2 separate regions of the Homo sapiens genome follow, and region 1 is linked to region 2. A link means that fine-mapping ties the variant in region 2 to the expression of a gene that starts in the linked region. Tissue or cell type: whole blood. Region 2 holds a variant in brackets; the other region holds the start of a gene. All regions are shown on one strand. Distances are from middle to middle.

Region 1 (5,151 bases), 130 kb before region 2:
TTCAAGCGATTCTCCTGCCTCAGCTTCTGAGTAACTGGGATTACAGGTGCGCACCACCTCGCCCGGCTACTTCTTTTGTATTTTTAGTAGAGATGGGGTTGCACCATGTTGGTCAGGCTGGTCTCAAACTCCTGACCTCGTGATCCGCCCACCTCGGCCTCCCAAAGTGCTGGGATTACAGGCATGAGCCACCACGCCTGGCCGACATAAGACAGATTAACAGAAGAAAAACCGTTTTAATTACCTGCATACGCAGCAGCACAGGAATCTCACAAAACATGAAGGGCCAGATGATTGAAGCTTATAGCATTCTGAGCTAGAAATAAATAAGGGCTTGGGGCTTCTGTGGGGACAGTGGGGAGGCACCACAGGTAGGATATAGGAGGGTTAGTGGAGGAAATGTATGGTAAATAATGTTGCCTTGTGGCTGCGCGCGGTGGCTCACACCTGTAATCCCAGCACTTTGGGAGGCCGAGGTGGGCGGATCACGAGGTCAGGAGTTCGAGACCAGCCTGACCAACATGGTGAAACCCCGTCTCTACTAAAAATACAAAAATTACCCGGGCGCGGTGGCGCGCGCCTGTAATCCCGGCTACTTCAGAGGCTGAGGCCGGAGAATCGCTTGAACCCGGGGGGCGGAGGTTGCAGTGAGCCGGGATCATGCCAATGCACTCCAGCCTGGGCGACTGAGCGAGACTCTGCCTCAAAAAAAAAAAAAAAAAAAAAAAAAAAAGTTGCCTTGTTATGTAAAGTCTCTCATGTAATAAAAGTTCTCTGAGCAGCTGCCTTCCTGACACAGATACTTTTACTATGTGGACTTCCTTTATAGATGTAAATTTGCTTTACAAAAGGACAGCTTTTCAGAGCTACTCCCGTGTCTGCAGTTTCTCAGAATAACCAGCTTGAAATGTGCCAAACAAGTGTATTTTGGGATAGCATATTTTGGTATTCTACAGTCATAATTTGGGGTGCTGTGGCCTGAGCCTCAGCAGCAAAAAGAGGACATGATTCAGGGTTCGGAGCGCTGGATTCTATTACCAGCTCTGCCCCCTAACCCAGTGGTCTCTTGTGAAAGGTCCTCGAGTTCCGAGTCGAGTCAATTTCCCTAAAAGGCAAAGAGGCATCGGAGTTCCAGCTGGCTTAAACATTTGTAGATTTCGCGCCTTCCCTTTTCGCCCCTCCTTCCTCTCCACCCGTCTCCCCACCCCGAGCTACTAGGGGGCCTGCCCATTTCCCCAGGCCAGGAGTAGGGCTGAAGTGAAGTGACCGCGGTCGTAGCCAACAGCGAAGCTCATTAGAAAGTCCTGGTGAGAGCCTCAGCTTCTGATGAGTCACAGATCGCCACGGAGCAGGTTGCTGCGCTTGACTGATTGGGTTTACCCTATTTTTGTTTTGAGTTAGAGCCAACTGTCCTCATTCCTTTTCGTGGCTCTGAGTAGGGCCTGCTCCATTATATCTCTTTCTCTAAACGCCTGCATCTGAGATGCTGGAAAATCCTGCGCAGCTCATAACCCAAGGCCTGGTTTCCATTCACCTTTCCTCTTCTACTCCTAAGCTGCCCAAGACACTCCTTTGCCAGAGCTCTGTCTGGAAACGAGTCCCTCTAAGGTCAAGCCTTGCGTCATGTGCCAGGGGATCAGACGAGTGGATTCCAGGCCCAGTTTTACTTCCTCAACTTTGCTGTGAGGCTTTGGGCAAGTTATTTAACCTCTCTGGGCTTCAGTTGCCTCACCGCTAAAATGGGTACGGTAATGCTTATTTGAAAGAGCAAAGGGATTGGCGCAAAAATCGCACTAACAGAAATATCTTCATTCCGGCAGGGCGCGGTGGCTCACGCCTGTAATCCCAGCACTTTGGGAGGCCGAGGCGGGCGGATCACCTGAGGTCAGGAGTTCGAGACCAGCCTGGCCAAGATGGTGAAACCCCGTCTCTACTAAAAATACAAAAAATTAGCCGGGCGTGGTGGCAGGCGCCTGTAATCCCAGCTACTCGGGAGGCAGAGGTTGCAGTGAGCCGAGATCGCGTCACTGCACTCCAGCCTGGGCGACAGAGTGAAGCTCCGTCTCAGAGAAAAAAAAGAAAAAAAAAAAAGAAATACCTTCATTCCTCTTGGGGAGGTGGCTGTGAGGACAGCAGATCTGAGTGGGAGAAAACCTAGAGACGGCCTCCCTGCCTTCTGTATGGAACAAGCAATTATTGGGCACCCTCTTTTTAGTGAGGAAGCAGGGACGGAAAATGAGTCCTTGGGCCAGCGCAGGAGGAGAGGCTGGAAAACATATCAATATTCAGGAAGGCACGGAAAGGGCTCTCAATGGATCTCTCACCAAGTGCCATCAGGGCAGAACAGTCAAGGGCCCAGGGATTCGAGGAAGCTTGGGAGGCGCGGAGAGCCCAAAAGTTGAAAGTTTTCTTGGCAGATGAGGGAAGGAAAGGGATTTCAGGAACAAGGATCTCGTGGGTGGGCTGTCCCAGTCGGCGCGCGGCAGAGCGCAGACCAGCACCCGGCGGTCTGGTCTGTGCAGGAAAGGCAGGAACCGCTTACTAAGGCTCCAACCTTTTAGAGGCAGCAACAAGCTCTTTCTCTGGATCCGAAGGCGGAGAGGCGCTGCGCTCTCATTTGGCGAGGGCCCGAGCGCGGCCAGACCGCGCACCAGACCCGGAGCGTGGGGCCCAAAGGCTGGCGGCCGACTCCGGAGCTCGGCGCCCCAACCGGGAAGTGATCGCAGCAGCCCACCCGCCTGACGCCAGCGGAAGTGCGAGCCCGGGTCGAGCCTGCTCCGCCGCCGGGCGCCCGGGAAGGGGCGGGCACGGGGCGGGGCTGGGGGCGGGCGAGGCGGGGCCGGCGGCGGGGCGGGGCTTGGCCGCAGTTGTTTTTACCCAGGCCTCGGCGCCTAGGCGCTTCGCCGAGGCTGATCTTCGTTCAAGTGTGAGCTGCGGCTGAGCCCAGCGCTCGAGGCGCGAGGCAGCCAGGAGGGCCCGTGCGGCGCGGGGAGCCAGCGAGCGCGCCTTCGGCATTGGCCGCCGCGATGTCAGCTCAGTGCTGTGCGGGCCAGGTGAGCGAGGCCGGGCGCAGCGCGGGGGTTGTCAGATCGGAGAACCGGGCCAGGAGTCCAGGCGTGGAGGACCTGCCTGGGTGCGCTCCCAGCTCCGCGGCCGAACGTAGGGCCCGGGTGGGTCGCTCGGGCTGGCCCCGCGGCGCTCAGCCGTCCGGGAAATCCTGTGCCCTGGGCGGGCGGGAAGGGGCAGGGGGAAGCCCGAGAGGCTACCCCGGGGTCTTCCCGTCCGGCCTCCGGGACTCCGCGTGGAGCGGGGCGTGCCGGGCTCGGGCGGAGGATCCCGACTGCTCCAGGGGCGTGTCGCCTCTTGCGCCGAGCACTGGTGAATAGCGCTGAGCTCCGTAGCCCTCTCCACTCTGCTTGTCGGATGAATCCAGGAAGAAAAGTGGGTTTAGGCACCGTCTCCTTTGCTATGCCCTGAATAAAACTCGGGTCAAACAACCCAGGCAGGTTGCGCTTGGCATCTCGTAGTCGAGCGTGGGCTCTGTACCTTTGAGAATGTCTCGAAGCCTGACTTCCAAACTACCGGGCGCAGGTCTGGGCGAAGGGAAAACTCAGCCCTGCTTCCTGAATTTCCCGACCCAACCCTGGCTCGGTACTAGCACGACTGCCTGGGTAGGGCTGGAACCTTCCTGCCTCTCTTTGCAAATAAACTTGTTCGAACCTGTTTTTTAACTCTCGCCTATTTAAACCTATGATGTCTTAAAACATTATGTCTCCTACCAGTTACTGCATCAGTGTAGAATTAGTACGTCTTAGCCCTGTAATGCTGGTTTCACTCCTTCCTGCAGAGTTAGAAAAAACGAAGTAGGTGAGTCTCTTGGATGTGGAGCTCTTTTCTCCCTTTACATGTGGATTATCAGCGTTTCGGTACAGAGTTTTAATGGAGTGTTTTCACGAACGAATCAGACTCTAGGGAGCATCCTGGTTCGGGGTGTTCTTGCTGACACTCAGCCTTTCCACAATCGAGGCCAGCTGTAAGTGATGGAGTGGTTAAACTGTGGGTTTCTGTAACCGGCGATTATACTGGCAGATAATCTGTCCTGTTTAGAGTGGCCACGTGGAGCTGTCTTGGTTTTTGAGGTCTAATACTGTGCTTGGCATACATTAAAGCTGGCCTTTTCAGAGTTGAGGAAATTGAGGCTTTTGACGACTGAGACGAAATGATTTTTTTTCCCTGTGTCAGGCAGAGAGAGAAAGAGAATGAGAATGGTCACCACCTTACCAGGTATTTGAGAACAAGGTGGACCAGGAAAGACTGTTTTCAGAAAGCTCTGCAAATCTTTTATTCCCGTTTTGAAATACTTTTTCTCCAATATGATGCGACACTTTTTATTACGTAGTAATGATACAGCTCTTTAGGGGCATCTGTCCTGGTCCCTTGAAGTCCCCTTGAGGCTCTTTCTGCCATTCCCAAGTTCCTAATTTAGAGCTCTGTAATTACCAGTATTCAAATGGGTTTTGTAAAAGAATTATTTTGCTGTTGATGTTTTAGCAGGTTTCTAAAGTCTCCCCTCTTAGGACTTTGGAAAGAACCAAATCAAAGTTAACCCCTGCTTTCCCAGGCCTGCTGGAGGCATCACTGTGGTGGGCCTCAGTGCTGTGTGATGGTGATCACACTGTGATTTCCTGTGGATGGGGCGGTAGGAAGTTAAAAGAAAAGCAAACAGGCTGGGCGCAGTGGCTCATGCCTGTAATCCCAGCACTTTGGGAGGCAGAGGCGGGCGGATCACCTGAGATCAGGAGTTGGAGACCAGCCTGACCAACGTGGAGAAACCTCATCTCTACTAAAAACACAAAATTGCCGGGTGTGATGACGCATGCCTGTAATCCCAGCTACACAGCTAAGGCAGGAGAATCGCTTGAACCCAGAGGCAGAGGTTGTGGTGAGCTGAGATCACGCCATTGCACTCAAGCCTGGGCAATGAGCAAAAAGAGCAAAACTCCATCTCAAAAGAAAGGAAAGCAAACAAAACCTCACAGCACCGTCAGAAGTTACCAATTCTTGTTTGTTTCTGTGGGCACCTGCCTTTTGCCAGGAGCCTGCTATATAGTCATAAGTCAGACAAGCATCTCTGCTCTCAATGGCCTATCT
Region 2 (5,151 bases):
TTTACCACTATGAGAACAGCATGGGAAAGACCCAGTCCCATGATTCAGTTACCTCTCACCAGGTCCCCCCCATGACACATGGGAATTATGGGAGCTACAGTTCAAGATGAGATTTGGGTAGGGACACAGCCAAACCATATCAGTCACCATCCTCACACTCTTCCTCAAATATGTATTACATTTTCAGTGAAGTTCTCCCTGACTATTCTATGTAAGATTTCACTCTCTCCCTGAATTTCCTACCCTACTTTACTGCTTTATTGTTTTCTATAGTACTTATCACCATCCAGCCAACTATATACATTTTCTTACCTTTTCAGTTTGTCTTCAGTGGCACTAAAATTCAAGCTCCCTTAGGGGTAGGGATGTGTTCACTCCTGTATCCCCAGTGTCTAGAATGATGCCTGGTACATAATAGGTGCTTAGTAAATAGGTGACAAATGAATAAATGAACAAATGGATGGATAAAAGAAAGATTTGTGGATGGCAGTAGTGAAAAACAAGACATCGTAGTGCCTTGTGAAGGACTTTTAAATGCCAATTGAAATGTCTAAACTCTATTTAGGGAATGGGACATAGGAAAGGGTGATACTTAGGTAGATAGTGGATGATATCCTTCTAGGCATATGGAAAGATAAAGATAGGTGCTGGAAAGAAGAGATTTGAGTATCTGAACTTAAAACAAATTATATCAAGGTTACGACAAACCGGGAAGATGTAATTACAGATAGGGCCCTGTTGTATTGCCCAGGCTCAAACTCTTGGCCTCAACCAAGTAGCTGGGACTACAGACACAAGCCACCACAACCAGCAATATATTTAGTAATTAAAATGCCTTCTTTTTTTTTTTTGAGATGGAATCTCGCTTTGTTGCCCAGGTTGGAGTGCAGTGGCGCGATCTTGGCTCACTGCAACCTCTGCCTCCTGGGTTCAAGTGATTCTCCTGCCTCAGCCTCCCGAGTAGCTGGGATTACAGGTGCCTGCCACCAGGCCCGGCTAGTTTTTGTATTTTTAGTAGAGTTGGGGTTTCATCATGTTGGCCAGGCTGGTCTTGAACTCCTGACCTCAAGTGATCCACCCACCTTGGCCTCCCAAAGTGCTGGGATTATAGGCATGAGCCACCAAGTCCGGCTAAAATGCTCTTATAAACCAATAAGAATATAATAGAAAAACAGTTGGTCAAAAAAACATGAAACTATCCTTCAATCTTACTAGTAATTAAGGAAATTTTGTTTCACTTATCAAATGGTGATTAATTTTCAACTAAGCACTGAAGACGATATTGAGGAAGACTGCATTTTGTATGTTGTGGTGGGAGTGTGGCTTAAATTGCCTGGCACATTTAGCAAAATGTATCAAAACTGTTAAAAAATGACACACCTTCTGACCTCGCAATTCCAATTTAAGGAATTTCCCTAAGGAGTTAATAATAGTTTCAACTATTCAGTTACAAGAATATCACTCAAATAGAGTTCATAAAAGCAAAATAATAGAAATAATTTAAATTCACTTAGAACATCTATATATGGAAATGTTAACCTAGCTAATAAATACAGTGCTGTAGAAAAATATCTTATTGAATGTGTTCTGAATGCCTTGTAAAAAATAATTTAGACAGCTGTTGCCAGGCACAGTGGCTCATGCCTATAATTCCAGCTACTTGGGAGGCTGGGGTGGGAGGATCACGTGAGGCCAGGAGTTCAAGACCAGCCTGAGCAACATAATGAGACCCTGTCTCTACAAAAAAATTGTTTTAAAACTTATCCAGGCATGGTGATGCACACCTGTAATCCCAGCTGCTCTTAAGGCTGAGGTGGGAAGATCCCTTGAGTGCAGCAGATGAGTTCCAGGCTGCAGTGAGCTATGATTGCATCACTGCACTCCAGCCTCAGTGACAGAGGGAGACCCTGTCTCTAAAACAATCAAACAAACAAACAAAACCTATATACAGTGCTATCCAAGTTATGCACACATGCATAAACGTACTCGTGTGCACATGGACCCAAAGGAAATGTACCCAAATGTTTACCTACCATTACGTCTTCACAGCGGCACCTCCTCCCTGCTTTTCCCTCCTTCATATTTTGGGAAGTTTTCTAGTAGGAGCAGCCATGT[G/C]TTTTCCATACAACTCTCCTGTCATAGCTTCAGTTAATTGATCCAAGAGTGGACTTTCCATCTAAGCTGGACAATCAGTGTCTTTCTGGAAATTTCTTCGAAATGGCTGCTGTCTTGAACCAAGGAGTTTGGAAACTTGAAAGATGTTGTTAGTGACTGTTTTAAGCATCACAGACATAGAAAGAAAGCCAATCTGCAGAAAGATATAGGATTAAAACAGCTGTGCAGAGGAGCAATTGTGGAAGAGAGGAGAGGGAGGGAAAGAGTAAGAATGAATGGACTTCCTGGATTTCCTTATAATGTTCCAGTCTGCAACTCTAATCCATTCTGGAGGCCCAGCATAATAAAATAATAATGATAGCCAATGTTTATTGAACACTTAATGTGTGCTTGGCATAATTCTCACAATGATCCTATGGATGTTACTGTTCTAATCCCCATTATGGCAATGGAATAAAGGCAAACTTTTCTTAAAATCCTTACTAATTTGCTTTCACAGAAACTGCCAGATCTCCCCTCTCTCCCCAGTTCCCTTTCCTGCCTCCTCTTTTCTTCACTGCCTCCCCTCCCCACAAGATCTTCCCCTTTAGGTCAATCTTTCCTTTCCATATGCAGTGCTTTCTCTGGGCTTCTTTATTTGTATAACCATTATATCAGTAAGGAATTGCATTTGACAAATGGACCACAGGGACTTAAAAACCTGGGATGTTGGTTCAGCAGCTCAAGGACGTCAGGTCAAAGATTACTGTGGATTTCTGGTTTCCCCTTGTGGCCCCAGCAGCTGCTTTGCCAATCCATCTAATCTGCATTCCAGCCAGAAGACCCTGAGGGCACTGGGCTCCCTGGAGAAAAATTCATTGCATGTTTTACGGCAGGAAATATCAAGATGAGTCTGGAAATATCTTCTTATTGCCAGAAAACAAACATACTTTCAAAGACCCTTGGAAGACAAGCTAAGTTATGTCTAGTCATAAATTTTATCTAGAAATAAGTTTTGTAACCATTATAGTATTTTGTGTATATTTTTCTGCTTTTTAAGGTAAGTAAAGAGACTGATTCATTAGACTCAAAATATTAGTAAAAATTTATAAGATGTTGATAACTAAGTTTGAAATAATGTTCAAATGTTTAAATTGTTAAATCTTTAAATTTATAATTTATTAAATTTGTAAGGTTAAACTTTTTAAGTTCAGTATGTTTTCAGTGTTTATTAAGATTTTGCCTATAGAAATGTGAGTCTGCTTTGTTGTTTTTTTCCTTGAGAAATCAATTAAAATTAGATTGTAGTTTGAAATGTCTAAAACTTAATTCTGAAAGTTTGATAAATATTTGGGAGTACCTTATCAAATTTACAAGCCAGTTGGGCATTCATCAAAACCAAATAAAAGTAGATAATAAAATATTAACAAAACTGATTTATAAATTAACACAAGTTTAAAGTCTTCAAAATTAAGTTTTAAAACATATAATTTAAATATATAAAATATAAGTTGAAATTAAAGGGAGTATTTATTTCAATGCATAAAGGCTCTCTTCAGACATAAAGAAAACTCAGATGACATTTTGGAGGTAGGTGGTATCAGTCAGTGTCGGCTAAGTTATGCTGTGGTAACAAGCAACTCCAAAACCCTCAGTGGCTTACAATGACTAAAGTTCAGTTCTTGCTCACATTGTGGGCTACCGGTAGCTTTGCTCTAAGTTTTCCATCCTGGGACCAGCAGTCTGTATTTGGGATATTGCTGGTTTCATGGAAGAGAGAACGAACATAGTAGAACCATATGATGAATCAGAGCTTCTGCTTCGAAGTGGCACACATCACTTCTGTTATCATTGCATTGGTCAAAGCAAGTCTCATGGCCACTCTTGAGGTCAAGGAGATGAGAATATGTAATCCTCCCACAAGAAGGGACACCTCAAACCACATCTCTAAGGCTGATGCAATGAAGTGGGGAAGTATTATCTTCCCCAGGGTGGGGCAGCAAATATTTTGAGTAATAAAATCTACTGTAATGGGGAATAGGAGGTTTTTAAAAAATTCTTACAACTTAGTTTTTTCCCTGTCACATAGGCTGTCAGTATATCCTAACTTACAGAAGTGATTGTGATTGTGTCTGGGTGTTGGAATTATGGTGATTTTAATCTTCTTCTTTGAAAGTTTTTGATGATGAGTATATATTTATTTTGTAGACAAATTAACAATTTTTAATTAAAAATTTAAATTATACCAGGCTTGGTATCGCATGCCTGTAATCCTATCACTTTGGGAGGTCAAGGTGGGAAGATCACTTGAGCTTAGGAGTTTGAGGCCAGCCTGGGCAACATAGTGAGACCCTGTCTCCATTTTTATATAAACAAATAAGCAAAAATTTTGATGAAAAATTTTTTTGTAACCAAATTAAAATTTATGAATTTCATTTGTACAAAAAAGGCAGTGGATAACTAACTTGTTTTTAATATTGGAATGGTAGTATGTGCAGAACAGTGTTTTAGAAAAATACATCTCACAACATTGAAGAAGAAAATGTATGTTGGAGATTTTGTGTTTTAGATATATCTCAACCTGTCAGCTTTGAAAGAATGTGGCTATGAAATGGAGTGTGTTTGTTAAAGAAATAAGTAAATCAGTAAGTGAATGTTGGTTAGTTGGGTGGAGAAAGGCTTAGAAGCATCTAGCACTAAAAGATATATTCTTTTGTGGTTATCTGGCTGATGTCATGAAATTCTGACTTATACCACCAGGGAAGCTTACATTTCTCTTTGGCAGGGAACTTCAAATTTAGTACAGTTTGGACCTCACTGCATAGTCATAGTAAAAACTTTTGTACTTAATTGACTCTTCGTTTGCTTCTGGTTTTATAGTGGCCTTCCTGATGAACCAGCTTTTTATAATCCAAATTGGATCTGTGCCTACTTAATTGTTTCTGTCCCAATTCTACTTGGTGGTCAAGACTGAATCAGATTTTCGGTTCCTCCTTCTCCTCTCGTTTTGACTTTCCAGTGTATTCAACTGAATTTTCATCATAATGACTCCAAAGT

Evidence for each region. PIP is the estimated chance that this variant, and not a neighbour inherited with it, causes the effect.
Region 1: it holds the start of SERINC5, and the variant in region 2 is fine-mapped to the expression of SERINC5 in whole blood (INTERVAL, PIP above 0.99).

What each region holds. Positions count from the first base shown.
Region 1 is chr5:80,253,798-80,258,948 of GRCh38, reverse strand. It overlaps SERINC5 (serine incorporator 5), which reads left to right and starts at 2,901. Exons shown (of 12, transcript NM_001174072.3): 1 at 2,901-3,053. The coding sequence starts at 3,027. RefSeq lists enhancers at 1-867, 868-1,801, 1,802-2,735 and silencers at 2,589-3,028, 3,139-3,418.
Region 2 is chr5:80,126,080-80,131,230 of GRCh38, reverse strand. It overlaps a transcript of SERINC5 not described here. Among named protein-coding and RNA genes, the nearest start is that of THBS4-AS1, 45 kb to the right of the region's middle. The variant G/C (reference allele first, on the strand shown) is at 2,116.